Linked DNA regions of Homo sapiens: all the other regions are linked to region 2. Evidence: fine-mapped expression QTL. A gene starts in region 2. Each other region holds a variant in brackets. All regions are shown on one strand. Distances are from middle to middle. Region 1 overlaps STX17-DT (STX17 divergent transcript). Region 2 holds the start of INVS (inversin). Region 3 overlaps INVS (inversin).

Evidence for each region.
Region 1: its variant is fine-mapped to the expression of INVS in neural progenitor cells (Aygun 2021, PIP 0.95).
Region 3: its variant is fine-mapped to the expression of INVS in whole blood (TOPMed, PIP above 0.99).

What each region holds. Positions count from the first base shown.
Region 1 is chr9:99,894,453-99,905,523 of GRCh38, reverse strand. STX17-DT (STX17 divergent transcript) reads left to right here. Exons shown (of 3, transcript NR_038853.1): 2 at 10,519-10,644. Among named protein-coding and RNA genes, the nearest start is that of STX17-DT, 6.6 kb to the left of the region's middle. The variant T/A (reference allele first, on the strand shown) is at 4,591.
Region 2 is chr9:100,093,280-100,104,245 of GRCh38, reverse strand. It overlaps INVS (inversin), which reads right to left and starts at 5,003. Exons shown (of 17, transcript NM_014425.5): 1 at 4,830-5,003. It overlaps ERP44 (endoplasmic reticulum protein 44), which reads left to right and starts at 5,246. Exons shown (of 12, transcript NM_015051.3): 1 at 5,246-5,462. The coding sequence starts at 5,406. It also overlaps the pseudogene RN7SL75P. RefSeq lists a silencer at 4,730-4,939 and enhancers at 5,180-5,319, 5,330-5,399.
Region 3 is chr9:100,292,600-100,303,308 of GRCh38, reverse strand. It overlaps INVS (inversin), which reads right to left. Exons shown (of 17, transcript NM_014425.5): 14 at 10,266-10,709; 15 at 6,163-6,392; 16 at 5,299-5,373; 17 at 1,134-2,741. The coding sequence ends at 2,635. TEX10 (testis expressed 10) reads left to right here. Exons shown (of 15, transcript NM_017746.4): 15 at 1,005-1,225. The coding sequence ends at 1,118. Among named protein-coding and RNA genes, the nearest start is that of TEX10, 55 kb to the left of the region's middle. The variant T/C (reference allele first, on the strand shown) is at 4,225.

The DNA.
Region 1 (11,071 bases), 200 kb after region 2:
TGAAATAAAAGATCATTTGTGTTAAGTTCTGAAAAAGCTTCCTCAGGTACAAAATCAGGAGGTGTGGTACTCAAAGATTCTAAATTTGGACCTGGACTTCTAAGTTGTTATATGTATGTTTGCTGTAAGTTAGGTGTGTCAAAGTAGTAGGATAAACATTTTTTTTTTTTTTTTTTTTTTAGACAGAGTCTTGCTCTTTCGCCCAGGCTGGAGTGCAGTGGCATGATCTCAGCTCACTGCAACCTCCACCTCCCAGATTCAAGCGATTATCCTGTGTCAGCCTCCTGAGTAGCTGGGACTACAGGCGTGTGCCAACATGCCCGGCTAATTTTTTGTATTTTTAATAGAGACAGAGTTTCACCATGTTAGCCAGGATGGTCTTGATCTCCTGACCTCGTGATCCGCCCGCCTCGGCCTCCCAAAGTACTGGGATTACAGGTGTGAGCCACCATGCCCGACCAAAACCTTTTAATCTAACTGTTGGTTAGCTTGATTTATAATCTTTAAATATTCAAACATATGGTGTGTGGACCTCTTTTGTGTACTCTAGGTCATCAAGTTGTTAGGGGCAGGCCTGCTACTACTGGCCGACATTTTCCTGAAGTCCTAACTGAACCCAGCAAGTCCAAACAAAACATTAAGTGTATATGTTGGAAAGAAAATTAAAAAAAATTCTTAGGGTGTTATGATTGATTGCTTTCTTGGAAAATCCATGGAATAAACTGAAACTAATTCAATAAGATGGCTATAAAATACCTCTCCTAAACAACAATCATCAATTTTAAAATGTAATGAGAAGAAGACTGGGCGTGATGGCTCATGCCTATAATCTCAGCACTTTGGGAGGCCAATGAGGGAGGATTGCTTGAGGCTAGAAATTCAAGACCAACCTGGGCAAAATAGTGAGACCCCATTTCTAAAAAAAACAAAAAAAACGTAGCTGGGTATGGTGGCATGTACCTATAATCCCAGCTACTCAGGAGGCTGAAACAGGAGGATCAGTTGAGCCCAGGAGTTTGAGGCTGGAATGAACTATGATCCCACCAGCCTGCACTCCAGCCTGCAGAAAAGACTGACACCCTGTCTCAAAAAAAAAAAAAAAAAAAAAAATTGAAATGTACTGGGAGGAAGATTACATTCAAAAATGACAAAAATCAAGTTTGTGTTTATAAGGAATTACAAGACCTATTTGAAGAATTGAGAATAATAGCTAGATGAGGGATAGGGGTGGAAGGAAGGATCACAAAGGGGCATAAGGAAACTTTGGGAGTGATAGAAATGTTCATTATCTTGATTGTGGTAATAGCTGCATGGACGTATATATATGTCAAAACTTACCAAATTGTACACTGTAAATATGTTTATGTATAAGTGCTTATTGTATGTGAATTATACCTAAATAAAGCCATGTAAAAAGGGAGGGGGGAAGAAGTAGCTTTTTATTTGATTGCATGTGATGTGTAAAGCACTTGGTTAGGCGCTTTACATGCAATATGTTATTTAATACTGATGACAACCCATGAAGTAGGTATTACAATCACCCCCTTCATACAAACTAGGAAATTGAGGCTTAGAGAGTAACTTGACCAAGGTCCAAGTCTCATATACTACATAACAGGAGTAAGACTCAAATCTTACGTAACAGTATTTATACTTTAACCTGACTTCCATATTTCCATATAAGATACAAGTAAAGACTTGACTATGTGGAAAAGTAATACAGTCAATATTGTAAAGTTGTCCATTTCCACCAAACTAACTTAAAAATTTATCAAAATCCCATTATGATTTTTCTCTTTCTTTTTCTTTCTTTCTTGTTTTTCTTTCTTTTCTTTCTTTTTTCCTTCCTTCCTTCCCTTCCTTCCCTTTCTTTTCCTTTCCTTTCTTATTTCCTTCCTTCCTTCCCTTTTTTCCTTTCCTTTCTTATTTCCTTCCTTCCTTTTCCTTTCCTTTCTTATTTCCTTCCCTCCCTTCCTTCCTTCCTTCGTGTTTTGTTTTGAGATAGAATCTTGCTTTGTCACCCAGACTAGAGTGCAATGGGGGTGATCATGGTTCACTGCAGCCTTGACCTCCTCCTGCCTCAGCTTCCCAAGAAGCTGGAACCACAGGTGTATGCCACTATGCTGGGCTAATTTTATTTTTCTAGAAATTGGGACTCCCTGTGTTGCCCAGTCTAGTCTCCAATTCCTGAGCTCAAGTGATCCTCCTACCTCAGCCTCCCAAAGTGCTAGGATTACAGGTGTGTGCCACCACACCAGGCCCCCTTTATGATTTCTATAATAAAACATTTTAAAAAATCCAAATTGATTTTGCAACTATTACTCTTTCTTCTTAGAATGCCATTTTTTGCCTGCTTTCCCCCATCTCTTTCCCCCCACCCCAGAGTAAAGAAATTACTCTTTATTCTGCTGGACTCAAAAGTCATCTCACCTAGGAAGCTTCTCCCACTGATATGGTTTGGCTCTGTGTCCCCACCCAAATCTCATCTTGAATTGTACTTCCATAATTCCTACATGTTGTGGGAAGGACCTGGTGGGATATAATTTGAATCATGGGAGATAATTTGAATCATGGGGGCGATTTCCCCCATACTGTTCTCATGGTAGTAAATAAGTCTCAAGAGATCTGATGGTTTTATCAGGGGTTTCCACACTTTTGCATCTTCCTCATTTTCTCTTGCTGCTGCCATGTAAGAAGTGCCTTTCACCTCCCGCCATGACTCTGAGGCCTCCCCAGCCATGTGGAACTGTAAGTCCAAATACAGTTCTTCTGTATTTCTTCCCAGTCTTGGGTATGTCTTTATCAGCAGCATGAAAATGGACTAATACAGTAAATTGGTACCAGTAGAGTGGGGCGTTGCTGAAAAGGTACCCAAAAATGTGGAAGCAACTTTGGAACTGGTTATCAGGCAGAGGTTGGAACAGTTTGGAGGGCTCGGAAGAAGACAGGAAAGTGTGGGAAAGTTTGGAGCCTCCTAGAGACTTGTTGAATGACTTTGACAAAAATGCTGATCGTGATATTAACAATAAGGTCCAGGCTGAGGTGGTCTCAGATAGAGATGAGGAACTTGTTGGGAACTGGAGCAAAAGTGACTCTCGTTATATTTTAGCAGAGACTGCCAGCATTTTGCCCCTGCCCTGGAGATTTGTGGAGCTTTGAACTTGAGAGAGATGATTTAGGGTATCTGGTGGAAGAAATTTCTAAACAGCAAAGTATTCAAGAGGTGTCTTGGGTGCTGTTAAAGGTATTCAGTTTTATCAGGGAAGCAGAGCATAATAGTTTGGAAAATTTGTAGCCTGACAATGTGACAGAAAAGAAAATCCCATTTTCAGAGGAGAAAGTCAAGCTGTCTGCAGAAATTTGCATAAGTAATGAGGAGCCAAATGTTAATCGCCAAGACAATGGGGAAAATGTTTCCAGGGCATGTGAGAGGTCTTCACAGCAGCTCTTCCCATCACAGGCCTGGAGGCCTTGGAGGAAAATATGGTTTCATGGGCTGGACCAAGGGTCCTCGTGCGTGTACAGCCTAGGAACTTGGTGCCCTGTGTCTCAGCTGCTCCAGCTGTGGCTGAAAGGGGCCAATGTGGAGCTTGGGCTGTGGTTTCAGAGGGTGCAAGCCCCAAGCCTTGGCAGCTTCCACGTGGTTTTGAGCCTGCAAGTGCACAGAAGTAAAGAATTGGGGTTTGGGAACCTCCACCTAGATTTCAGAGGATGTATGGAAATGCCTGGATGCCCAGGCAAAAGTTTGCTGCAGGGGTGGGGTCCTCATGGAGAACCTCTGCTAAGGCCGTACAGAAAGGAAATGTGGGGTCAGAGCCCCCACACAGAGATGCTACTGGGGCACTACCTAGTGGAGCTGTGAGAAGAGGGCCACCGTCCTCTAGTCCTCTAGACCCCAGAATGGTAGATTCACTGATACCTTGCACTGTGCACCTGGAAAAGCCACAGACACTCAACACCAGCCCGTGAAAGCAGCCAGGAGGGGTGGTATACCCTGCAAAGCCACAGGGATGGAGCTGCCCAAGACAATGGAACCTACCTCTTGCCTCAGCATGACCTGGATATGAGACGTGGAGTCAAAGGATATCATTTTGAAGCTGTAGAATTTGACTGCTTTCTGTTACAGGGCACGTGCCCTGTAACCCCTTTGTTTTGGCCAATTTCTCCCATTTGTAACAGCTGCATTTACCTAATACCTGTACCCCATTGTATCTAGAAAGTAACTAGCTTGCTTTTGATTTCACAGATTCATAGGCAGAAGAGACTTGCCTTGTCTCAGATGAGACTTTGGACTGTGGACTTTTGGGTTAATGCTAAAATGAGTTAAGACTTTGGGGGATTGTTGGGAAGGCATAATTGCTTTTGAAATGTGAGGACATGAGATTCGGAGGGTCCAAGGGCTGAATGATATGGTTTGGCTCTGTGTCCCCACCCAAATATCATCTTGAATTATACTCCCGTAATTCCCACGTGTTGTGGGAGGGACCTGCTGGGAGATAATTTGAATCATGGGGGCAGTTTCCTCCATACTGTTCTCGTAGTAGTGAATAAGTCTCGTGAGATCTGATGGTTTTATCAGGGGTTTCCGCT[T/A]TTGCATCTTCCGTATTTTCTCTTGTCACCACCATGTAAGAAGTGCCTTTCACCTCCTGCCATAATTCTGAGGCCTCCCTAGCCATGTGGAACTGTAAGTTCAATTAAATCTTTTTTTCTTCCCAGTCTCGGGCATGTCTTTATCAGCAGCGTGAAAACAGACTAATACTCTCACCCTCTCAAGTCCAGGTTTAATGTCCCCTTATAAGCTACTACAGCAATCTATGCTTATCCCTATAAAGGTCCTTATCATAATTAGTTGAATTCTTCATCTTCTTATCTGTGACTCTACTAGATTCTAAGTTTCTTGAGGAAAGATATACATTATTATTTACTTAGAACCTAGTACGGTTCCTGGAACATCCTAGGAAAACAATGTATTTTACATGAATTAAGAAATAAATTTTCTAGTATCATAAAGCAAGTATATGAAGAATCTGAAATAAAATCCAAATTTGGCACAATGGTATAGACCTAATAGGTTATCTTCCTGGCCCATTACTTTTCTGAGAACTGCAAAGAAAAGCCCAGGAACTGCTCCTCCCCTCCAGATCTGAATGCTAACAGTTATGAGTCTCTGTTGTACCAGCATGAACCCCTTCCTACCCTTGACCAGAGGGAATTGGTCCAGGAGCAGACACCTGAGTGGGCTTTTCTTTGCTGGAAGCCTTTTTATTATAGCTTCAATCTCATTACTTATGATTGGTGTGTTCAGGTTTTTGACTTCTTCATGGTTCAATCTTGGCAGGTTGTATGTGTCTAGAAATTTGTCCATTTATTCTAGATTTTCTAATTTATTGGCATATACTTGCTCATAGTAGTCTCTAATGATCTTTTGAATTTCTGCAGTTTAGATTATAGTGTCTCCTTTTTCATCTCTGATTTTATTTCTTTGGGTCTTCTGTCTTTTTTCTTAGTCTAGCTAAAAGTTGATTGACTTTATTTATCTTTTCAAAAACCACCTTATCATTTTATTGATTTTTGTATTGTTTTGTTCATTTTTATATCATTTATTTCTGCTCTGATTTTTATTATTTATTTTCTTCTACTAATTTGAGGTTTGGTTTGCTCTTGTTTTCTAGTTCTTTAAGATGCATTGTTGGGTTGTTTGAAGTTTTTCTCCTTTTTTATTAGGTGGTTATTGCTATAAACTTTCCTCTTAGTACTGCTTCTGCTGTATCTCATGGCTTTTGGTGTGTCATGTTTCCATTTTCATTTGTTTTAGGAAATTTTAAATTTCCTTCTTAATTTTTTTATTGACCTGCTGGTCATTCAAGAGCCTATTATTTAATTTCTATGTGTTTGTATAGTTTCCAAAGTTCCTCTTGTTTTTGATTTATAGTTTTATTCCATTATGGTGAGAGAAGGCACTTGATATTATTCTGATTTTTTTGAGTGTTCTAAGACTTGTTTTGTGACCTAATATATGACCTATCCTTGAGAATGATTCATATAATAAAGAGAAGAATGTGTATTCTACAGGCATTAGATGAAATGTTCTGTAAATATCTATTAAGTCCATTTGGTCTATAGTACAGATTAAATCCAGTGTTTCCTTGTTGATTTTCTGTCTGGGTGATGTGTCCAATGCTGAAAATAGGGTGTTGAAGTCTCCAGCTATCATTGTATTGGGGTCTATCTCTGACCTTAGTTTTAATAATATTTGCTTTGTATACCTGGGTGCTCTCCCGTGTTAGGTGCATATATGTTTAGAATTACTAAATTCTCTTGCTGAATTGACCCCTTTATCATTATATAATGACCTTCTTTGTCTCTTTTTATAGACTTTGTCTGAAATCTTTTGTCTAATAAAAATATAGCTGCTCCTGCTTGTAATCCCAGCACTTTGGGAGGCTGAAATGGGCAGATAACTTGAGGTCGGTAGTTCAAGACCAGCCTGGCCAACATGGTGAAACCCCATCTCTACTGAAAATACAAAAATTCACCAGACGTGGTGGCATGTGCCTGTAATCCCAGCTATTCAGGAGGCTGAGGTGGGAGAATTGCTTGAACCCAGTAGGGCAGAGGTTGCAGTGAGCTGAGATCATGCCACTGCACTCCAGCCTGGGCAACAGAGCGAGACTCCATCTCAAAAAAAAAACAAAAAACAAAAAGCGTATATGGCTGCTCCTGCTCCTTTTTTGTTTGTTTCAATTGGCAAGGAATATTTTTTTCCATCTCTTTATTTTCAATCCATGTGTCATTATAGGTAAACTGTGTTTCCTGTAGACAACAGATCTTTGTGTCTTTTTTAATTAGTTCAACTACTCTGTGTCTTTTTGATTGGTGAGTTTAGTCCATTTATATGAAATGTTACTATCAATAAGTAAGGACTTACTTCTGCCATTTTATAATTTGTTTTCTTGTTGTTTTGTGGTCTTCCCTCCCTGCCTGCCTGCTTTCTTTCCTCCCTCCCTCCCGCCCTTCCTTCCTTTTGTGAAGAGTATTTTCTCTGGTGGTATGTTCCAATTTCTTGCTTTTTACTTTTTGTGTATCTGCTGTAGGTTTTTAAATTTGAGGTTCTCATGAGGCATGGAAATAACAGCTTATAACCCATTATTTTAAGCTGATAACAACTAAACACTGGTTGTAAAAACAAACAAATAAGCAAAGAGAAGAGTAATAAAAACTCTACACTTCAACTTCACTTTACACTTTAACTGCTTGCTTTTTAACTTTTTGGTGTTCTTATTTATATCTTACACTGTCCGTGTCTTGAAAAGTTGTTGTAATTATTATTTTTGATAGGTTCATATTTTAGTATTTCTGCTCAAGACGTGAGTAATTTCCATACCACAATTACAGTGTTACGATATTCTGTGTTTGGCTGGGCACAGTAGCTCATGCCTATAACCCCAGCACTTTGGGAGGGCAAGACAGTTTTGGCCATGTTGCCCAGGCAGTCTGAACACCTTGAGCCCATGTGTTTGAGACTAGCCTGGGCAACATGGCAAGACCCTGTCTCTTCAAAAATTTTTAAAAAAATAAGCCAGGCACTGTGGCATGAGCCTGTGGTCCCAGCCACTTGGAAGGCTGAGGTGGGAGGATCACCTGAGCCCAGGAGTTGAGGATGCAGTGAGCTGTGTTATTAATAGCACCACTGCACTGCAGGCTGGGTGGGCAACAAAGCTAGACCCTGTCTTAAGAAAAAACTTCCGTTTTTGCCTGTTTACTTATTATTACCAGTGAGTTTTGTACCTTCAGATCACTTCTTATTGCTTAACATCCTTTTCTTTCAGATTGAAGGACTCCCGTTAGCATTTCTTGTAGGACAAGTTCGGTGTTGATGAAATCCCTCAGTTTTTCTTTCTCTGGGAAAGTCTCTATTTATTCTTCATGGTTGAAGGATATTTTTTACCGGATATACTATTCTAGGATAAACGTGTTTTCTTCATCACTTTAAATATGTCATGCCACTCTGTCACACCATATGTACTGCCATGTCAAACCTGTAAGGTTTCCACTGAGAAGTCTGCTGCCAGACATATTGGAGCTCCTTTGTATGTTATTTGGTTCTTTTCTTTGGCTGCTTTTAAGGTTCTTCCTTTCCTTCACCTTTGCGAGTTTGATTATTAAATGCTTTGAAGTAATGTTCTTTGGGTTAAATCTGCTTGGTGTTCTATAATCTTCTTGTGCTTAAATACCTATATCTTTCTCTAGGTTTGGAATGTTCTCTGTTATTATCCCTTTTAATACATTTTCTACCCCAATCTCTCTCTACCTTTTCTTTAAAGCCAGTAACTCTTAGATTTGCCCTTTTGAGGCTATTTTCTAGATCCTGTAGGCATGCCTTATTCTTTTTTATTCTTTTTCATTTTGTCTCCTGTGACTGTGTATTTTCAGGTAGCCTATCTTCAGGCTCACTCATTCTTTCTTCTGCTTGATCAGTTCTGTTGTTGAGATACTCTGATTCCTTCTTCAGTATGCCAGCTGAATTTTTTAGCTTCAGAATTTCTGCTTGGTTTTTAAAAATTATTTGAATCTCTGTTAAATTTATCTGATATGATTCTAAATTCCTTCTCTGTGTTATCTTGAATTTTGTTGTACTTCCTCAAAAGAGCTATTTTGAATTTTCTGTCTGAATGTTCATGTAATTCTGTCACTCCAGAATTGGTCACTGGTGCCTTATTTATGTTGTTTAGTGAGGTCATGTTTTCCTTGATGGTCTTGATGCTTGTGGATATTCAGCAATGTCTGGGCATTGAAGAGTTAGGTGTAGTCTTTGCAGTCTGGGCTTGTTTGTACCTATCCTTCTTGGGAAGGATTTCCAGGTATTCAGAGGGAATTGAGTGTTGTGATATAAGTCTCTGTTCACTGCAAGCATATCTGCATTAGGGGCCACCCTAAGCCCAGTAGTGCTGTGACTCTTGCAGACTCGTAGATGTACTGCCTTGGTGGTCTTGGGTAAGATCTGAGAGAATTCCCTGGATTACCAGACAGAGACTCTTGTTCACTTTTCTTACTTATCCCAAATAAATGGAGTCTCTCCATGATGAGCTTCCTGGATCTGGGGGAGGAGTGACACAAGCACTCCCGTAACCACCACCACTGGGACTGTGCTGGGTCATACCTGTGGCCAGCATAGCACTAGGTCTCGCCCAAGGCCTGCAGCAGCCACTCTGGCTACTGCCAGTGTTCACTCAAGGCTCAAGGGCTCTTCAGTCAGCAGGTGGCAAATCCAGCTAGCCTTCTGTCCTTCCCTTCAGGACTATAGGCTCCCCTCAGCCCAGGGCAGGTCCAAAAATGCTATCTGGGAGCCAGGGCCTGGAGCTGGGAACCTTAGGCAGCTCCTTAGTGCTCTATTTTACTGTGGCTGAGCTAGCACCTAGGCCACAAGATAAAGTCCTTTCCACTCTTACCTCTCCTTTCCTCAAGAAGAAGGAGTTTCTCCCCATGGCCACCACCACCCCAGGCCTATGGCAAGTACTGCTTGGTTTACCCAAGTCCCAAGGGCTCTTCAGTCAGCTTGCAGTGAATGCTGCCAGGCCTGGGTCTCTCTTTAGGGCAGTGTGCTCCCCTCTGGCCCAGGGTTAGTTGAGGAATACCATCTAGGAGCAAAGTCCTGGAATCAGAGACCCCAGGAGCGCACTTGGTGCTTTACCCTACTGCGGCCAAGCTAGCTGCAAGGCTTACTCTTCCCTCTCCTTTCGTTAAACCGAAGGAGTATCTCTCCGTAGCCACTACAGCTGGGAATGTGCTGGGTCACACCTGAAGCTAGCACAGCACTCAGTCTCATCCAAGTCCTGTGACAAGTACTGCCTTGCTGCCGCTGGTGTTTATTCAAGGCCCAAGTGCTCTTTAGTCAGCAAGAGATGAATCCTGCCATAACTGTGTCCTTCTCTTTAAGGCAGAGGGTCCCCTTCTGGCCCACAGTGTCTAGAAATGTTGTTCAGGAACTAGGACTGGTTTGGGGGCTTCAGTACTCTTCCTGGTACCCTGTTCTACTGTGGCCAAGATGGTATACAAGTTGCAAGACAGAGTCTTCTTTACTCTTCCCTCTCTCTCCTCAAGTGGAAGGAAGGAATCTCTTTTGGAGCTGCAAACTGTTCTGCCCAGGGTTAAGGGAGGTTTGACATAAGCACTCCCTTGACCACCCCAGCTGGGGTCTCACTAGGTCACGTTCCCCCCAGGTCCACTGGCTCTGAGTCCAGCACAGTACCAGGACTTCCCCAGGAAATGCAGTCCTTGTTGCTTAGACTGCCTTTCAAGTTTATTTAGGGTCCTAGAGCACTTTAGCCCATGGTCATGTGGCTTGCTGGAACTCAGGTTCTGACTATTGGGATGGATGATCCCCCTCTGGCTAGGGCTGGTCTAAATGCTCCCTCTTTGAGCACCAGCTAAATTCTTTCTTGTGTTGCTTTCCACTGTGACAGGCAGCACTGAGTTCCAATGCAAAGTCTCACAATCACTGTGCTCTTCCTCCCCCAGGCATACAGATTCTCTCTCCTCACCACGCGGCTGCTGCTGGAGGATGGAGGAGGGGTGGTGTCAGCAATTCAAGACTGTCTTTCCTACCCTCTTCAGTGCCCTTCCTTGATAAGCTGTTTAAACCAGGTACTGTGATCACTCACCTGATTTTTGGTTCTTACAAAGGGGCTTTCTTGTGTGGATAGTTTTTCAGTTTGCTCTTCCTGGAGGGGAGATGTTCATGGAAGGTGTCTGGCTCCACCTCCCTCCAATCTATCCCTCATTTTTCTTTGTTTTAACTAGCTCAAATGAACTTCTACTTTCAATCTAGATAATTGTAACTATTGTAGACACAAAATCCCATGTTTCTACTATCTTATGATATCAATTTAAACATATTTATATAATGAATCCACTGACTTTAGTACTTAAACCTCACCACTGTCTGCTTTATTGTCCTCTGCCACCACACACACCATCACCAAACAGTTCATATATATAGTAAGGTTAAAGAGGCTTTATAGCAAACCCAAATGAGTAAACACTTTCCCATTCACTACAGAGGAATTTGATA
Region 2 (10,966 bases):
GTGAGACCTGTCTCAAAAGAAAAAAAGCTATAGTCCTAGTCCTGGAATTGGCATTAGGTGGCAAATTAGGTGACTTTTGTACAAGTTGCTCATCTGCTCATCTGTAAAATGAGAGGGTAGGTGCTTCTAGGACTCTTCTTAGGGACTATCTGAGGAAAAAACAAAGACAATATTTAACATTAGGCACAGGGCTCAGGGTTACAGTGACACAAGCAATATGATGCCACATAATCTAAGTTAATACAAGTAATATGATGCCACATAATATTAAACATTAGAATTGATATTGCAAATAAAAGTGAGCCCGATCCACAAAAAGAGTATAACATAAACTCAATTGTGAAGTCAGAATTAGCTGGATTTAAGCACTAAATAAACTTAAAAAAATTAATTAGGGCTGGGCATGGTGACTCATGCCTGTAATCCCAGCACTTTGTGAGGCCAAGACAGGAGAATTTCTTGAGCCCAGGAGTTTGAGACCAGCCTGGGCAATATAGCGAGAGCTCATTTCTACAAATCCCATCCCCTCCCCTCCCTTCCCCTCGCCTCCCCTCCCCTCCCCTCGCCTCTCCTTTCCTCCCCTCCTCTCCCCCTGCTTTCCTCCCTTCTTGTCTTTTCGAGACAGGGTCTTGCTCTGTCACCCAGGCTAGAGTGCAGTGGTGCGATGTCAGCTCATTGCAGCCTCTGCCTCCAGGGCTCAAGCAAGTCTCCTGCCTCAGCCTCCTCAGTAGCTGGGATTATAGGCACCTGCCATCACGACCGGCTAAGTTTTGTATTTTTTAGTAGCGACGGGGTTTCACCATGTTGGCCAGGCTGGTCTCGAACTCCTGATCTCAAGTGATCTGCCCACCTTGGCATCCCAAAGTGCTGGGATTACAGGCATAAGCCACCATGCCCTGCCTACCAAAAGTTTTTAAAAATTAGCTGAGCATGGTGGCATGCACTGTAATCCTAGCTACTCGGGAGGCTGAGGTGGAAGTTTCACTTGAACCTGAGAAACAGGGTTTGCAGTGAGCTGAGATCACACCATTGCATGCCAGACTGGGCAACAGGTTGAGACCCTGACTCAGAAAAAAATAAAAAAATTAGTTAAGGCCGGGTGTGATGGCTCACGCCTGTAATCCCAGCACTTTGGGAGGGCAAGGCGGGCAGATCACCTGAGGTCAGGAGTTCGAGACCAGCGTGGCCAACATGGCGAAACTGTGTCTCTACTAAAAATACAAAAATTAGCTGGGCGTGGTGGCGCGTGCCCATAATCCCAACTATGCAGGAGGCTGAGGCAGGAGAATTGCTTGAACCTGGGAGGTGGAGGTTGCAGTGAGCTGAGATCGCACCACTGCACTCCAGCCTGGGCAACAGAGTAAGACTCCATCTGAAAAAAAAATTAGTTAAAAAACTATTTTTAAAGAGATGGGATCTTGCTATGTTACCTAGGCTGGAGGGCAGTGGCTATTCATAGGTGCAATCCCACTACGATCAGCATAGGAGTTTTGACGTGGACCAGTTCATTCCTTCTTAGGCAGCCTGGTGGTCTTCTACTCCTGGGAGATCACCATATTGATGCCAAACTTAAAGTGGACACCTGAATGGCATAGCGCACTACAGCCTGAAACTCCTGAGTTAAGCGATCCTCCCTCCTCAGCCACCTGAATAGCTGGGACTTCAGGCATGTGCCATCACACCTGGCTAAATACTAAATTAAAAGGTATCTAGGTCTTGCCGTCATTCTCACAAAAAGTGAAATTTTTATTTGTTCTCTCCTTGGTCCACCAGGAAAATATACCTAGATAGAGGTCTTAACCATAAGATCTTACTTGGAACATCGTATCACTAAAATGAACCATATTTCAATAAGGACAATTTTGTTCTGACCGGTAGTCTCATGGAGCTTGTAAGAACCTTTTAAAAACATATGACAGGAGTTTGAGAGACCAGCCTGACCAATATGGTGAAACCCCGTCCCTACTAAAAACACAAAAATTAGCTGGGCTGTGGTGGCACACACCTGTAATCCTAGCTACTCAGGAGGCTGAGGTGGGAGAATTGCTTGAATTTGGGAGGTGGATGGAGGTTGCAGTGAGCCAAGATCATGCCACTGCACTCCAGCCTGGGCACAGAGGGAGACCCTGTCTCAAAAAAAATAAAATAAAATAAAAAATAAGTATCAGCCGCATAGGAAGATAGTGAGATCCCTATCACAAGAGTGTTTAAGAAAGCAGAGGCTGGAGAAATGCAGCAACAATTCAAACACCTGATGGGAAGGAAAGATGAATAGTTGCATCAGTGATCTTAAACATCCTTCCTAAACCCTTAAGCTGCTTTATCAAAGTTCCAAAGCTGAATGCCTACAAGGACCAGAGAGGTAACAACTGTTAGAAACGTAGGGAGTCACAGAATCACGGTAAACTCAAGCATATGTACTTATCTAAAGGGAGCAGCTGTTAATCAGCTCCAGTTAATTGCTGCCATGAGGGTAGGCAAGTCCTTTTCTGATTTCACCAAAAAGCAGGTCACGCCAATCGCTGTTACTCCTGGGGATCTGAGAGTTTTCTAAGATAAATTTATAACGGATGAGCTGGTATTTGTCTTGTCATCGACAAGGATTATTGGTTCAAATTCTGCCCTTGAGAGAACATATTAATACTTTCTTAATTATGGTAAAGCACAGCTCCTTACGTCTTTATTTTGCTGACAATTTGAGTTAAGGACTGGCAGAAAATATGGAGGAAGAGGGTGTTGTGAGACACTTCAGTCATGTCTGAGTCTAACAGTCATGTCAGAAGAACTACTGTCATATCCAGGATTATATTAAGGTTATTTGAGAGAAGCTACAAAATAGAGGTGGAGGTGAAAACATGGGAGGGGAGTAACTGCACTTGGGTTCTAGGCCCAGTTGTATTTATAATCAGCAGTGTGTCCTCAGGCTATGTCAGCTTTCTAGGTTTCTGTAAAATGCAAAAAATAATAAGGTTAGACCATGTTCACATTCGTTCATTCAACAAGCTGAGTGACAACTATGTGCTAGGCACTGTTCTAAACTCTAAGACCTGTCATTTTTCATTCTAAGTGATCAGAGTTTTAGGCACATCAGAACCACAAAAAAAGTTCTTTATACCCTTTGAAAAATACACTAAAAATGTGATCTCTGTTTTATATATATGTGTGTGTGTGTATATATTATACATATATAAATTATATATACACATATATAATATATATAATATATATACATATAATATATATATTATATATACATATATATTATATATATAATATATATTATATATATAATATATATGTATATATATTATATATATTATATATATACATATAATATATATACATATATAATATATATTATATATACATATATAATATATATATTATATATACATATATTATATATATATTATATATACATATATTATATATATTATATATACATATATTATATATATAATATATATTATATATACATATATTATATATATTATATGTACATATAATATATATATTATATGTACATATAATATATATATTATATGTACATATATAATATATATATTATATGTACATATATAATATATATATTATATATACATATATAATATATATATTATATATACATATATTATATATATTATATGTACATATATTATATATATTATATATATATACTTTTTACTTCATAATTCTTAGCACTTAGCACAGTAACAGGTATATAGCCAGTACTCAGTAGATGTTTGTTGGATGAAAGGTCACAGGCTGAGTGCTAAGTCCAAAAAGTGAGCAGGATCAAAGTTTAATTTCTTGAATAATGAGTTCATACTTACAAGTCTCTGCTCTTTTAAAATTTCCCATTTCAACTATCTTTGGGCTCTGTCAGGGGCGTGGACAAGAGATAGGAGCACTAGTCTAGGAGTTAGGCCGCCTTGGTAAGAGTATTGGCTCTATCACTGTCTAATTTTGTCACCCTGAGAAAGCCATTATGCAGGGCTCTTTTTTTTTCTTAAGAAAAAATGTATTTTTTGCCCCTTTAAGAAAATAAATCATTTTTTATAGAAAAAAGTCAAAACCACTTTGATAAAGTGCTATAAAATGCAAAGGTGTCATCATCCTTGCCTAATTATACAACAAGCCCGTGTAATAAATGCTCTAATAATTATAACCGTACAAAACTAGAGGTACTGCAGTCACACTCATAGGAAGAGTAATTCTGATTAGGACTAAAGGGTTGGTTGTTCGGGAAGTTCTCAGAGATGGTGACATTTAAGATAGCATTCCAGAGAGAGAACGGGTAAGGCCATTCCAGGCAGCAGGAAAGCTGAAGCAAAGGCGGGAGCAGGGAGAACCACAAAAGCACAGTGTGCCTCCTGGGTACTAAGCAGAGATCGCGTGGGCTCCTGGACCTCACTGAGTGTTTGCAGAAGAAGCCGCAGAGCTACCTGGGGCCAAGTTAGGATCCTCGACTGCTTTGCTAGGGAATTTCGTAATTATACTGGAGGAGCGATCCACGCCTTAGCAGCAATCACTCACACAGTTTTCCAGTTTACGACGTGCTATCCCATCCCGTACCACATCTACTCCTTACAGGAGCCCTCAGAGACAATCAGGGATAAGTCATTGACTCATTCAACTGAGGCCCCGAGTGGTGGCTCTGACTTTATAATGCAGGAATTAGAGCAGAAAGAAGAGGCAGCGGGCGAGGAGGCCAATGATGGAGGCTCAGGCCACAGCCTAGGCCAGGAAGGCCGTGAGTCTGCAGCAGGGGCCAAGGCGGTGCGGACCGAATGATCTGAGCCTCCCCAGCCAGGCCCCCTCCTACTCACCCTCGCCTCCTCCAGGACTGACGTCCCGGGGGCGGCTCCAGGAGGCGCAACCCGGACCGGGCCGCCCCTCCTGCCGGGCCGGTACACTATATCCAGCCAGGTCAGACCCCACGGCGCTGAAGCTAGCCGAGCCCCTCAAAAGGCCGCCCGAGGCTTTCGGCCGCACATCCTTCTGGGAATTGTAGTTCCCATCCTCTGAAGCACCGCGTACACCCGCCCTCCGCCCTTCTATCCCACAGGACCCCGCGCGCAGAGGACTCAGTGGACCGGGGCCGAGAGCCCAATGGGAAAGGAAGTTCTAGATGACGGACGACGTGCGGGGTGAGGCTAGTGCAGGACTACATTTCCCGAAGTGCACCGAGGTGGGCAGGACCCGGAAGTGAGGGTGTGAGAGGCCTCTCTGGAAGTTGTCCCGGGTGTTCGCCGCTGGAGCCCGGGTCGAGAGGACGAGGTGCCGCTGCCTGGAGAATCCTCCGCTGCCGTCGGCTCCCGGAGCCCAGCCCTTTCCTAACCCAACCCAACCTAGCCCAGTCCCAGCCGCCAGCGCCTGTCCCTGTCACGGACCCCAGCGTTACCATGCATCCTGCCGTCTTCCTATCCTTACCCGACCTCAGATGCTCCCTTCTGCTCCTGGTGAGTGAGGGAATGACAGACCCATCGACAAACGCACGAACGGCCTCCGGCCCTCGCCCAGGGGGAACACTGCTACTCCTGCCCCTGCTTTTCCGTCTTTTCCTGCAGTGTTTTGGAGTGCACCCTCCCCCGCTGCCCTCACTCTCGCCTGTCGGCTTCCAGGCGCGGAGTCCCCGAGGCCTGAGAAACCAGTGTCGGGGGAGAATGGGAGAATTAGCCCTGAGGGACTGATACGTAGTCACGGCGTAGGAGCTTCCCCTTCTCCCCGAAGTCCGGGGGTTTCGGTTTCGAGGGCTAGTGGACCTGGTGGTAGCTTGAATCGGAAAAGACCAAGCATAGACCTAGCGTTCCTTCCCACCCTCTCCATTTGGGAAGAGTGTGAGGTCGACAGGTGCTGGGGTTGTGTGACTCTCACTGGGTCTAGATCCCTGAAGCGGTGCCCGGGTTGGCAGATCCCTCTGTTGTGGCTTGATGCGATTGGTTGGGAACCCGGAACTGGAGACTGGTTTGGATTCCACTGGGAGAATAGAGTTTGAAGGGTGGAAGGTGTGGTTACCTGACAATCTCAGCTCAAGGCCTCCCTCAAATCTTATTGCAACGTATTTCCCCATGGAAGCAGATTTCTTCTTCATTGCGCCTTATTTGAATATGCATTCATTCCTAACTGCCTAACCTGCTCAGCATCATCCCATCTTAAAAGAATCTTTCCCTAGTCCCTCTTGCCCCAGAGTACGTCTTGAGTGTGCAGACTAATTGATCCAGGCTTCAGGTCAAATTGAGACAAAAGCGAAGGACTAAACACGTATGGCAAAATGGCTTATATTTAATTGGGCTGTTAATTATAATGTAATATTTGAAAGTACCTTAATTGTAGTAGATTTTTAGAAATTCAGATTTAAACATTAAGAACTACTTTCTTTACAATTTAAGAAACGATTTAGTGACGCATATGAAGTCACACAGCTAGTTACAGGCAGAGCTGGGATTAGAAACAAGTCTCTTGACTTCCAGTGCTTATTCCGCCATATCCCATTAAATGTTTAATATTTGTGTTTGAAATAGTTCTTTCTTTTCTTTTGTCACTTGGACCTTTTCGGAAAAAGCACTGTAAAAAACTAAATGGCATGTCAAAGTACTTTTGAGAACAAAAAGTTGTGTATAAACATTGTAATATTAAATGATAGAGTGTCTTATTGCCACTTCTTATAAGTATACAACAGTGAATGACTTCTGTATCGAGGAAAATATTCTGTATAGTGTTGTTTCTTGGTGATTTCATTATACACTGTGATACATTTTTCCTTCTAGAAGTGTTAGAATAATACCATTATTAGAGACCACTCTCTCCTTAAGAAGACTGGATACTAATCTTATCCACAAAATGGCTTGAGTTATGAATTGTGTGCACTTTTAGGAAATCAAAAAAAAAGGGCAAAAATCTTAAGATATTGTAAAGAAAAGTTGAGACACTGAACAGGCAAACTATATCAGATGCACTTTCCTCAAATGGTATGGTTTGGTTGTAAAGCTAAGTTATGAAGAAGAAATAATTTATTTTGGAATAACTCATGCTTTTTATAGAAAAACCTAATCTTGTTAAATATGAGTTTTTTCCCAAATAGAATCTAGATTTAACTAAAATCTAAGCATTTTGTATAATTATCTTTCTAAGCAAATGTAAAGGCATAAAAATCTGGAAAATATGTTAGAGAATACCTGTAGATATGAAAAGGCTGAAAAAGCCCCAGAAAAGGTTTAAACTAGAATTACAAGTCAAACTAGATTTAATTGGAATACAGTGTTTACCTAGTTTTAATACTCATATGCTAGTTAGCAAATATTTATAAAACATCTATCCTGTCTAATCGCAACTTTGAGTTGCTTACTTAACTGGTAATTCTCTCCTACTGATGGAACCTACTTACTCAGTATTCTCGCTGTCTAATAATTTGTCCTCTTTGTTCCCCCGTGTACTTTTTTCCTACTCTTCCAACTTTCTCTCTCAGACCTCAAGTTTATTCCTTCTTACATACAGATAAAGAAAAGCCAAGTTCCCATTTAGCTGAGGTCATCATTTTTTCCTTAAATGGCCTCCTCTAAAAAGCTGTATATTCTCTTACTATGATAATTTTCTTCAGGCACTTTGTACCTCAACCCTAAAGAACTAGACCTGTTCAAATTTAGTGGTGTTCATATAAGATAACAGTTGAAACATAATCCCAAACTTCTGGAGGCAAGTAGCTATCTTTTCCCTGATCTCAAAGCATTTTGGAATATATCACTCTGCCACAAAGCCTTTCTGGATGGGTAACTAAACACAAAAGCTCAATGTGATAACTTTTTTTCCTGAGCTTTTATATGTATATATATCTTTTATATATATATTTATTTGCGTCTATATAGATTTTTATTTACATATATTTAGATAGATAGATTTAATTAGCCCTTTTCTGCTTATCTTCCTATCTAAGGTGGGTTTATTCAGGGTTTTCCGCTGGGAAAATGATCAGTAAGGGGGATAGAAATCTTGCCTGTTTTTCCTGCACTGGTTGTGTACAAGTTTTGAAAAGGCGAGATAAGAGAAATAAGACTAAATTGGAAAGAAGTTGTCTCATGCACCCTAGGTAACCTCTTCTGTAGTTCAGATTTGTAGCACTGCAGTCCATTTGTTTTATTGAAGATGTGTTCTCATTAATCTCTTGATAAGTATGTTTATAGATCATAATTGTTACTAGTCGTAATTGTCCCGCATGTGAACACTTAAGGGTTTTGCCATTGTTGTTCTCGGTTTGTTCAATATGTATAGGTAGTCAAGAAAAGTTTGCTTAGTTTAGGTAGCTATGTAAATTTGAGAGCTAAGTAAACATTTATTTAATCGTTACAAGTACCTTAAAAATAAGCACAGTAGAATTCAGAGATGTCAGTTTTATCCTTTAATGTTAATAATATATGTAGATTCCAGTCTTCAGGAAGAGTACTTTTGGAGGCATGCAGTTTGATTAATACCTAGGTGAGGTTTTATTTATTTTGTTGATTTAACTTACCCTAGATCAATAGTTTACAAAGCCTGGCTGCTCATTAGAATCATCTGTGGCAGTTTTAATAAAATGATATCGGGGCCCAATACCAGGTCAGTTATATCTGTGAGCCCCAGAAATTAGTTTTAAAAAAAAATTTCCCAGGTGACATACTAAAGTATGTCCCTCTAAAAGGTAAGAATTAAACAAAACCACAATACCATTATCACATCTGGAAAAATTGACAGAAATTCCTTCATATCATCAAATATCTGGTCAGTGTTTGGGTTTTCCTGATTGTTTCCCTTTTTTTAAAAAAAAATAAACAGCATTGTTCAAAGCAAGGGCTATATAAAGTCCATCTATTCCAATTGGTTCATATGTCACTTATAAAACTTTTTAAATCCCTAGGTTCTCTCTCCATCTCATCATTTTCCTTATAATTTGTTTAGGAAACTGATCCTCTGTCCTGTAGCATTTGCCACATTCTGGATATTGCTGATTGCATCCTTGTGGGGTTTTATGTTTCTCTGTTCCTTGTGTTTCCTGTACATTTGTAATTCAATTTATGTGGTCCTAACCACCAGCTGCATATATATTGTTAGGTTCATTTGTTTCATTTATCTTTCAATTTTTAGTTTTTAAAAATTTACCTTTTATTTTATAATTATATAAAATCTCTTCCAAAACTAAATCTGTAAAGCTAACTATATTTGGATAAGTCTAATTTGTTTGTCTCTTTTACTGTCTTATCTCCCTCTTAATAAAATAGCACTTTTTTTTTTTTTTTTTCTTGAGGCAGAGTCTAGCTCTGTCACCCAGGCTAGAGTGCAGAGGAGTGATCACAGCTCACTGCAGCCTCAACCTCTGAGGCTGAAGCAATCCTTTCACCTCAGCCTCCTGAATAGCTGGGACTCTGGGACTACAGGTGTGTGCTACCACACCTGGCTAATTTTTTTTAATTTTTGTAGAGACAAGGGTCTCACTATATTACCCAGGCTGGTCTTGAACTCCTGGCTCAACTGATCTGCCTGCCTTCCAAAGTGTTAGGATTATAGGAATGAGCCACTGTGGCAGACCTAGGAAAATTTTTTTTTAATTTTTTTTTTGAGTTGGAGTCTCACTGTGTTGCCCAGGCTGCAGTGCAGTGGCACCATCTTGACTCATTGCAACCTCTGTCTCCTGGGTTCAAGTGATTCTCCTGCCTCAGCCTCCCCATTAGCTGGGATTACAGGCGCTTGCCACTGTGCCTGGCTAATTTTTATATTTTTAGTAGAGATGGGGTTTCACCATGTTGGCCAGGCTGGTCTCAAACTCCTGACCTGAGGTGATCTGCCCGCCTTGGCCTCCCAAAGTGCTGGGATTACAGGCATGAGCCACCACGCCCGGCCTGGAATACTTTTTTAAAAACTTTTTCAATTTTATGTCCCTTTCTTCCTTTTTTTTTTTTAAAGGTACAAGCTATTTGTATTTATTTTGGCATATATTTGTTTCTCCCTCCACTTGGATTAAATTGTAGCTTATTAGTCACACTTTTCCCCCACCTTTTTTTTAACTTAAAATTTTATTCTAGAGATGCGGATAGAAATTTTGCCTATTTCTTTTTAACTGCTTATGCTTCACTGGATAGATACCAGTTCACTGTTGTTACCATTCTTTTGCTGTTACAGATAGCTCTGCAAACAATAGCTTGTGCTTACGTAATTTTGATAGTGTATCTTTGAGATAGATTTCTGTACTTGCAGTTGCTAGGGCAAAAGGTAAATGTATATGTAGCTTTGTAGGTATTGCTGTATATTTGAAATTACTCTCCGTATAGGGGTTGTGCCATTTTATGACCTCACCAACAATGTAATAGTTTCCCTGTAGCCTTGATTAAAAAGGTATAATGTCAAATTATTGGGTATTTGTCAGTCTGATGGGTGAGAAATGGTATCTCAATGTATTTTAATTTGCCTGTCTTTAATATGAGTGTGATCAAGCTTCTTAGGTGTAAAAGTCATTTGCATTTCTTTTTGTGTGAACTGTCTTCCTGTCTAGCCTGGTTTTCTGTAGAATTGTTGGTCTTCTATTTCTAGACTATATAGACACAGACACACACAGTTCTTTTTTTTTCCCCCCCCACAGACAGGGTCTTGCTGTGTAGCCCAGGCTGGAGTGCAGTGGCCTGATCTTGGCTCACTGTAGCCTCAACCTCCCAGGTCACGTGATGCTCCCACCTTAGCCTCCCAAGTAGCTGGGACTACAGGCACAAGCCACCACACCCAGCTAATTTTTGTATTTTTAGTAGAGATAGGCTTTTGCCATGTTGCCCAGGCTGGTCTCGAACTCCTGGGCTCAAGCGATCCACCCGCTTTGGCCTCCCAAAGTTCTGGTATTATAGGCCTGAGCCACTGTGCCCAGCCCACACAGAGTTCTTAACCCTTTATATCCTTAGTTGATTCTGTGATGATGCTCACAGGGTTGAGAAGCACTGGAATATACAGC
Region 3 (10,709 bases), 200 kb before region 2:
CTATTAATGAACTGTGACAGCTTGGCAAGTTTTTTTCTTTCTTTCTTACCTATCCAAGCTTGTTTTCCTATCTGTAAAAATGGGAATAATGCCAACTTTATTGTGTTTTGGTGATCATTAAAGGAGATAACCCAAGTAAAGTTTTTAGTATACCTGACATTTGTTAAGTGCTCCATAAATGTTGTCATTAAGGAAATTATTTAGCAGGAATAAACTTCAGGCCAATTTCTAGTCACTTAGTTCACTCTAAAGTAAGAAAATCAGAAGTTGCAGACTTCAGCTTTGTCTAATGGTTGGCTCTCTGCCTTCAGCTGTGTCTGTTTGGCCGGGACAGCTCTGTTGTTTAGGATTCCTTTGGTGATTTTAGTTTGGGGGGGGGGCGGTTAAAAAAGTGTCTTGTATAGTTTGATTGGCAGATTATCCCTTGAGATTCGTAGTGATACTTTGAAGTAATAGTGCTTTTACATGCATATAACACAGGTGCTCATTAGTATTTTTTCAGTAGCCTTTGTAGGGGTAATGGAAGTGGCAGTGGAATAATTCAGAAATAGTGAAGGGAAGAAAATCAAGAGCTTGGATTATTCCCAGACTGGGGAATCAGCCCATCTTTGTAAAGAAGAGATTGACAGAAATTGTTGGTTGGCCCTGTAGAGTTATTCTCAGTTGGCACTGGGGTAAAGATCATGAGACACTAGAATGGCAAGAGGGAGAGGCAAGGGTGAAGGGATGGTTGGTGGTGAAATTTCATTAGTCTCTAGCATGTGCAGGAGGGAACAGACTTAACAAGAAACCATTAGCATTTGAGGATATAACTAGGAATTTTCACTGCCTGTGGTAATGCCCAATTAATAGTTCCCTGTTTCCTGGAAGACTTCCTATGGTAATTTACAGATGGGGATACAGTTGCCAAAGCTCTGGGAAATTGTGTTTGGGTGTGAAAAATACTGTCAGGTAGCATAGTGATTTGGGTGCAGTTCTCAGATTACTCTTGTTTTTCTCTCCAGACATTGAAGAGTGGAAGTGTTCAGGAACAGTGGCTCACAGACTTACATTACTGCTTCAACGTGTATATCACTGGGCATCCCCAAGGGCCCAGTGCACTGGCTACAGTGTATTGAAGAGGCCATAGTACCTCCTGTTTGAAGTTGTTTATTCACATCTATCTTATTTGAAGAAAAAGACTGATGTAATAGATCTTTGTCATTAAAGCTGAACTTTTAAAGAAGTTTACGAACCTTCTTTCTTTGCACTGATATATGAAAATAATGTTTGGGCGTTCCTATTGATGTGTAGGCTGGCTTCCCGGACTAGCACACGATACATGGTCATAGGCGGTTGTGCATTGTGCATTTCATAGGAGCTAAATATTTACAAAATAGAGAGTGATACTGTGGTACCTTCTGTTATATACCAAGAAACTGGCTAAATCTTTGTAATTCCATCCAGGCAGACCTCCTTCTTTGTGTTTTTGTGATCACAAAAACGATGAATGTAATAATTAGTAAACTAAAAACCAAGGTAATTAAGTGAACACTTCATTGCCTATCTGTCTATCTCTTACCGTTAGCACAGAAGTGGCACTGATCTGAAGAAAATGAAAGCAACCCCCAAAATACCTGTGAGTAAAATATATCACTGTTTATGCCTACTGTCAATATTCTCACAGCAGCTTTCCCCTTAAACAATGTGAAAGAGCCCATCATCACTGGATTTTATTTAAACCAGGTGTTCTTAGAATGCTAGGATGTGTGCCGTTTCATTCTTCCCTGCCAACAGAAATGGCATTTTAAGAAGATTGCTCACTTCTGCAAGTTGGTCAGAAAATACAAGTAGAACGTTGACGCCTGAGTTAGCACCTTGCTGCATGAACAGTCTGGTCTGTAAACCCTACCTGACAGAATCCTTGATACTGTAATACGGCTGTTGGTATTCAGCACTGAGAAAGCCATTCAGTGAAGACGTGGCGGCAACTTGTGGCCTTGAGAGGCTAACGTAGGAACTGTAAAATGTAAGGAATCACCAGAATGTATCTATGGTCTTTTGGACAATTTCTAAATGAAAACAGTGGGCAATGATTCTGATCTAAAATTTAAACCTGATTAATTTTGAAGTAATAGTGGGACGTGATATGTGTGTGTGTGTGTGTGTGTGTGTGTGTGTGTGTGTGTGATAAGTTTGTTGCATTAGATGCCAGGAAAGTAGTGAGAGGAAGGCTGCTATGGGACAGGCTTCCTATCTCATTTAGGTTCATCTCTTGAAACAAGAAGCCAGTACCAGCTAGCTGGCAGAAATCCCAACCCAGCAGCCGTAGTTTTCCTTAGATTTTGCTGTTAATTATGAATTCTCATTTCCAACTGTACAGACTGAGGTGAAAGCAGACACTCAGGCACTTTGCACAGACATAGTCTATGCAGGTCCTTTCAGTGCAGGCTGTGTTGATTGACAAAACAATGCTGTGTAAGAGCAGAAAGGAAACATTCTGACATTTTCTTTCAGTTAACACATTTTTAGGTGAATCAGCCTTCAGGTACGGATATTAAAGTTTTCCCAAGGTGTAAAAGATTATCAGCAGAAAATCTGAACTCTGCACTAGCTATGCCAGCTCCCCCGAACACAGTCTTCCTCCATAGGCAGTCAAGGTTTTGTTTTGTTTTTTGGCTGAGTAGCTGATTGCAGGTTATAAGAAAAGTTCTTTGATCTTCCACTGTTCTCAAGGAGATGTATACACTGTAGGTTGCTCACTGTTAAAAACAAATACCAGATAGATATTAAGGTTATTAATTTTAAGGCTGAAGGGAATAGTTCATTGGTGTTGAGGAAGAAGGATTTCGGTTTAGGCTATCCCTGGGATGATGGGCCAGTTTACTGTAGAGGCAGGATGACTTAATATAATAGCTTTATATTTCCTGCAGTCTCAAGATATGGGACATCTCTTCAAGGGAGACTTGATTAAGAGAGAGCAGGCACTTGGGGAGCTGGTACCAGAACCTCGGTCTTCAGTCTGCCTGAAATAACAAATAGATTCTCTCTCTGGGTCTCTCACATAACACATTACATAAACAGGTAACACATCTTTTAACTCTCCTATTACACTTTGAATAGTTGTTCTAGAAAATAGGTTTGTTAGAAAATATTCAGATCCTCATGAATGATAAGCTGATGGGAATATCAAAATGGATTTTTGAGGCCTTTTTATGACTTTGAATTAACAAATGTATAGGATGCCACAGTCAGAAAACATTAGTGATATACTTTGACAAATGATACTGAGGCCCCATATGAGAAACCTTGCTGAAGACATTGCTATATTTTGCTTCTAACTTTTTATGGAGCATATAAGCAAATACATTAAAGGTTTAGTAGTTTTTAAAAGTAACAAACATATGTCTCAATTTTTCTCTCTTGGTTTTATAACTTCCACAAAATTATTTTAATGTGAACTATTGTTTTTGGCTGTCTTCACTGTATCTTGAATGGAGTTGTCATCTGTGTACCCCTCTGCAGGTGAGCAAGAATAAACTGGATTTGTACAGGGGGTACCAATACTAATAATCACAGTTATTCCATTCACTGGAATGGAACTTTAAAGGGAGTTCTTTTCTTTTATTGTTAAAGAGATAGGCCCAGGTGTGTGTGTGTGTGTGTGTGTGTGTGTGTGTGTGTGTGTGTGTGTCAATAAAAGGCTCTGCTGAGATTCTTGGTGGGTGGTTTGCAAGGCTGTGTGTGTGTGTGTGTGTGTGTGTGTGTGTGTGTTGTGTGTCAATAAAAGGCTCTGCTGAGATTCTTGGTGGGTGGTTTGCAAGGCTGGGTGTAGAAGACTGACATGAGCAGGGATTGATTTGCTGCCTCCCAAATACATGTGGAGAAACAGCCCAAGGAGGCTGGCATTTTGCTATATCCACCTTTCTGCTTCTTCCTTTTTAAGTGGTAAAGGCACTACTAAAACCTCGGGGGTGGGGGGTTCTCCAAGTTGGAGGGTGAGAGCAATAATATTCATTAACTGGTTAATGCTTAATGTGGGTGGGCTTGAGCCTAACAAAACTGTGTGTTCTCCTAAATTTGGGGTTAGGAAAAGATCATTTTATCCTTGTCTGATTTTAAACCAGTCAAAAATATGTGTAGGACAAGTAAGTTGCTTGTTCATATGAAGTCCTAAGAAATCATTAAGTATTGATTTGAATTTATTTACTCTGTCCCTTCTGAGTCTCTTAACTAAAAAACTTA[T/C]ATGCTGCTAAACACCATTTTAAAAGATTTCTGGTAGTCTTGGATTTGTTTTTCTCTTAAGACTGAAAAATGATCCAGTTATCTAATTTATGCTAGTATTTGATTGTCTAAATGCCACTTCTCTGGTAGTGATATCTGACAATTCTGTTTTTGAAATGATTCTTTAATTTGCTCAGGTATAATGAAAGGGGTTTTTTTGTTTGTTTGTTTTTAAACAGACTGTAGGCCTTGATTGCTTTGAAAGTTTCTAACTACCCCACCCACCACTCCCTGATCAGCCTGTCTGTATTACATGAGTTGTCCAACACTTATTAAAGATTTGGCAGTAATTACTCTGTCCCCCACCTCCAGGTTTTTGCCCCCCATCAAAAAACTAAATGAATATTAAAGTTCATGCTGACAGTCATTGTTCACCTTCCCAGCTGCACTCTGTTCCTCCAGGATGACTGTGTGGATCGAGGAGGCAGGGGGGAGCGTGTTGCCATAGCCACCTATGAGAAACACTGGACCTGGCATTAGCTGCTGACAGCAATGAACTTATCACCCATATTTAATGCTGGTGTGAATGAGGGGGCCCTAAGTAAAACACTCTTGTCTTGGTGGCTGAAAAGAAAGTTCCCTGAGCTTCTCCTGTATGAGGGAAAGCACGCACAGCTGAGCCTGGGCTGTACATGCTCTCAGTGTTCTCTTCATGGTGTTCTTCCCATCTTGGAGAAGGAAATAGGGGATCATAGTGTGACACCAAAATGGAACAAGGATTCCCAAGGTATTCCTTTGAAGAGTGACAGTATTTTCATTTATTTCCTTTGTGTGAAAAAATGTGTAAAAGTGATCAATAATAGCTACCATTTATTTCTGTTGGAGTTAATGTTAACAATAATAGCTTTTAGTTGTGAAAATAATTTGCCTCTTAGGGAGACAGATGTTGGCTACAGTAATAATCCCATGAAATCAAATGACCATTGGAAAACCCTGGCCATATCTGTTCTAATGTCTTCTGTCTTTGGGGATGAAACAAAGGAAAATGCTTCCCCATGTTCTTCCCCACCATCTGCTTTGCAGTGGCTGCCTTACCTGAGTTGAGACGCAGCACAGAAGAGGCTTTTACAGATCTTGTAGGATGATGTATTTTCCCTTCGTGAGAACAACCTGAAATGAACCAACAACTGTTACTTTTCTTTGGCCAGGGATACGTTTGGCCTGACCAACTTCTGAATTCCTTATTGTGGTAAAGGCTTGAGCTTGCAGGTGTGTGTCAAGATAAGTTAGGTATGGTGTGGAAACATGTAGGCCCAGGGTAAAGTCCTGAGATTTTGCTAAATGAATGTTAAAGTTCATGCTGTAGGAGATCTTTCTAAAGGTGCTCTTGCTTATCTTTTTTTCTCTTGAGCCAGCAAGGCTTCTTGAACTCTACTGGGTCTATTTGGATGGGCTCTTTGCAGAGCTGAAAATGTTTCAATTTACAGCAGTTAATCTGCTGAACAAATATTTACTATAGTGCATGGGTGTTGAGCATTCTCATAGTGGGCAACCCTATAACATCTCAGCATAGGAAAAGTCAAAGTGATACAGGCAGAGTCTAGCTAAGTCGTGAATGCTCCAAATGGGTAATGCAAGGAGGAGACTCAAGCAGGGGTCTGGAGAGGTTTAAACAGTAAAGCTTGAGGGCACTCTGGGCTGAGATGCTAGAATGCCTCACGAAACCAAACAATTATGACCCAGTATCGCTGGGAGGCAGGAATGAAATGGTGCTTGAGAAATATTAGGTTGGTGCAAAATTAATTGCAGTTTTGACCATTTTTAATAATACAATTAATTTTGCACCAACCTAATTTATCTGAATGGAAGTTTACCCAATGTAATTAAATTCTACTTCAGATTCTGATGTGGTACTCTGGGGGTACTTGTGAACTACAAAGTAGGCAGAAGGACAGTTACCATAGATTTGCTTAAGCACTGAGTGCTTGGTGGACTTTGTGCCTGAGGTGCCCTTGGATGGACTCTTGGGGGCCTTGCTTACTGCAGTGGTTTGGGGGAATTTTAGTTCCAGTTCCTTCCTCCAAACCTGGAGGAGCAATGCTGTAGACTCTTGCCTCCATCTGTCCACATCTCCAGCTCCAAGCTGCTTCATATGCCGAAGGTGGGACAGGTGCTTCCTGAGCTGGTAGCTGGTTGGGTCAGAGGAGAGGAGAGGCTTTAAGATCACAGTACTGAGAAAACTAAATTTCCTTAAGGTTTCTAGAAGCTATAGGAGTAGTATTTGCTGAATTCCTGGTAGGTTCATTCAAGCTCCCATTCCTAATTTTGGCGGCAGCATGTTGAATGTGGAATTCTTTTTCCATTATCAAACACCTCCTGAACTAGGATTCAATCATGATTCCTTGCCTTCAAGGAGCTCACAGACTAGTGGAACAGGCTGCTGTGTAAAGAGGTACGTGTGGCATGAGAGTACTGTGCAAGAGCAAGGAGCTGGTTGTGCAAACAGATGCAGGACTGACTGATGGTTTGGTAAGGTTTCACAAGGTTAATATTTGTGCTGGATTTTAAAAGATGAATAGGAGCTTACCAGGCAGAGAAGGGCATTCTACGTAGCAGAACTGGCATCAGCAGAGATAGATAGAGGCATTTGTGCCAGAAAGTCAGTAACACAATGTGGAAGCACTGTGTCTTTGGTGACGAAAGGGGGCTTTAGAGTGGTAAAGGTATGAGCTGCATCTTACTAAGATAAGTCTGTTGGAGGTGGGTTTAGAGTGGGTGAGGAATGGGGATGATGGCTATATTTACATCTAGGATTTATTTGATGTTTTCAGTCCCACATGCACTCCCAAACTTACTGAGCACAACAACTATTTTGAGGCCTCCAAAGGAAAGCTGCAGCAATGTTTATTATCTGTATCTGTCTTTATTCCTAGTGAGCCTATAGGTAGCTGCAGAGAGCAACAGGCTTCATGTCTGATTTTACAGTGATCCCATTTGGGCTGCACCAAATGGGAAGTAATCTTTTTCCTAAGTCTGCTAAAAGCTCCTTGCAGCGCTTGGTGCAGCCCCTCCCTCCTTCCCCAAAGGCTGATTTCAGTCAGCCTACACTACTCTTCCTTCTGTCCTGGAGGGTAACACCATGGCATCCCTCTACTAGAATACGTACCACATTTCCAAAAAGCCAAGTCTAGAGAAAAGTATGGCACTACCGCGCTATAATTCAGTTTCTCCTGTTTGAAATGCTGTCTTCCATACCTTCTGCTCTTGTGGGCACAGAACTTGGGGGGAAGCCCAGGTAGTGGCTGAAGCTGTTAATGGTGTCAGCCCTCAGTGGGCCCAGCAGCACCTTTCCTGCTCAGCTTGTCCAGGATCCTGTTTCAATCTTTAAAATAGTCATCTTACTTGGTTATTAAACTGACAATTTTAAGATCAAGTTTCATTTTCTCAGGACCCAAGGTTCATTTTGCCCACTTCTTCCCTGCCTGTTTTCCAGCTCCTTTTCTCCATCCTCCACCTGTCCCCTATAACCACAGCCTGCACTGAACACTTAGTGTCCAGCCCTGACCCCTGCCCCAGCCCTCACTGCTTAGGTTTGCTATCAGATACACTTGCAGGACAGCGCTTCAGGCTCCTGTATTTACAATAGAAAATGTAGTTAAAATATAATAGAATCAATAAAAGTGTGTTTACTGTCACCAGACTTGGCTTTCTGCAATGTGCAACAATCCCAGAAGTCCTTTGGGCCTCAGAATTGCACAATGGCACATCCAGAGGGGGCCTGTGTAGTTACCTACGCAGGTGGGCATGTTAGACCATAAGCCCACTGTTCTTGGGGGAATGACTGAAGGCTCATTTGCTACTCTGGTCACTTACTGACAGGACCTGTCAGCTTCTGACTCTTCAAAGGAGTCAGACAGTCGGAGAAGGAGACATTTCAGGTAGGGAGCAGCTGTGGGGTCTGGCGTGGTAAACCTTGCTGGCTTGTTTAGATCCTAGATTTTAGCCAGAATACTTAAAAAGTTCATCTGGATGGTAGCCAGTGCATGTCCCACAGAGTGCAATGGCCATTTCCACCTGTGGCTTTCGAGGCCGACTGTCTTGGCTCAAAGCCAGCCCTGGCACTTGCTCTGTAATGTTGGTGAGTTGATGAACCTCTCTGTGCTTCAGTTTCCTCATCTGTGTAACGGGGATAAGAACAATACCTACCTTGCAGGGTTATCAGTGACGATTACATGCACAGGTAAAACTAGTTTGAACAGTGGCACAAGTGTCCAATAAATAATACTAGTATGTTAACAATTGGTAGTAGTAACATCACCCTTCTCCTGGTTACCCTGATGTGTGTGACACCAACCAGGCAGCCTTCTCCAGCCTATTTTCAGGCAAAGTGCATGGGGCCCACCTCCACCTCCCTTAGCTTGACCACAGCAAAAACTAACTTCACTAATAATGTAAGGGAAAGGCCCTTGGATTTGAGTCAGCCAGAGGTTCAAGTGCTGGATCTGCACCAAAAGGACAAGTCAGTTTTTCCTCTCGTCTGAAAAATGGGGATACTGCTCCCTGTCATGATGGCTTCCTGGTGTGGTTGGGAGTTCACATGGGGTCAGGCATGAGAGGACTTTGTTAATGGCCAAGAGCTGAAACAGACATAGGGAGAACACATTGCAAAGCCTGTGCAAGCACAAACCAGATCACCCGGCTCTGGGTTAGGCAGTCTCTGGTATGATATGAACGGAGGCCTCTCCCTGGACCTCCTGGGAATCTATCTAGTTTTCTCCCTGCCAATGTTAAGGAGAGAACGTCTTCCTTTTTCTCCTGACGGGAACCTCGATATCTCATACACCTGTGCCGCATTATTTCCTTGCCTTGTCTCCCTCCCCATCCGTCTTCCTCTCCCCAGTGATGGCGGCGACATAACTTCCACCTATTTCTTTTCTTGAGACAGGGTCTCACTCTGTCGCCCAGGCTGGAGTTCTGTGGCATGGTGATGGCTCACTGTGGCCTTGACCTCCTGGGCTCAAGCGATCCTCCTGCCTCAGCCTCACAAATAGCTAGGACTACAGGCATGTGCCACCATGCGTAGGTAATTGTTGTACTTTTTGTAGAGACGGAGTTTGGCCGTGTTTCCTGGGGTGGTCTCGTCTCATAACCCTGGGTTCAAGTGATCCTCCCTCCTCGGCCTCCCAAAGTGCTGGGGTTACAGGTGTAAGCCACTCTGCCCGGCCAACTCCCACCTATTGGTGATGGGTCCAGCTTCTCTCTGGACATTCATCACTGTAAGGCCTAATTTAGATTTAGGCTCTAGTGAGGCTTTCAGGATGAAAGAGATTATGAGACGTGAACATTTGTAGCAATAAGACCCCTCAAGTCCTCCCATAATCATCCCCTAGCGGCATTTGTCTCTACTATATTGGGAGTCTGTTTCAGGCTTTTAGGACAGCCTTCACCCCCACTCCCAGTGCCTACTATGTATTTTGAGCTTGGTAGATGCTCAGACAGGTTTACATAATACAGTTTAGTCACTCAATCTGTTATATCCAGACCCTGGTTTAGGTGTTTGGAGTATGACTAGTTCCTGGGTAGTAAAGACATAAGAATAAAAATAAAGTATCTCCTATGTGTAGTAATTTAGAATTAATGAAGCGTGCATTATCTCATTCCAGCAACCTGTCATATTAACAGGACATGTGCAACAATTATTAAATCCTGTTTTACAGATGAAGAAGCAGAGGGTCAGGGGGGCCATGTGATTTGCCCAAAGTCACATAACCTGTTAGAGCTTACCTGAACCTCACATTTCATGGTTACAAACCCAGGGCTTTTTCCTTTACCCCATGCTGTCCTGAGCACTTTCCCATCTTTCTAGGCAAAAACATCTTCCAAATGGTTTATACAATGTAAATTACTAGGATCTGGTGTGAATTTCATGGGTAGGCTCTATAAAATTGGCCTTACCATGCCACCACATGGAACTCACTGGGAAAACATCAAAGAGCACAGATGTCATGTTGAGAATATCAGTAACAAAGAACCACAGATGCGGCAGCACCCCATTTTCCTACCTTCGCCAGGCGCGCTGGATGACTGCTGCTGCCTTGTTCTTTTTGCGAAACAGCTCCTTCCTCCTTCGTTCTCTCTGAATTATCTGCAGTCGGAGCTCTACGGGGAGAAGGTCAATATTCACACTCTGCCCAGAGAGGGGACCAGGTGCTGGATCAGTCTCCTTAGATACCTGAAAGTCCTCGGACAGGGTAGATGTCTCCAGCCTCCTAGCTCCTGACCTCAACTCCTCTGTGCTCTGTGGCAAATGTGAATAGAGCCCTCCTGTGAGCTTGGCTTGTGTCACTTTGTTTCTTGGTGTACGATGGTGGGGAGGATTCTGCCCAGCATGGACCGCCTCCCCCCGGGCACTGCCAGGGCGGCTAGAACCAGCCGGAGAGCACCTTCCTCCTCTGAGCTCTTGAGTGCGCCTTTTCTGGGGGGCACATTTGGCCTTGGGTTCTGTG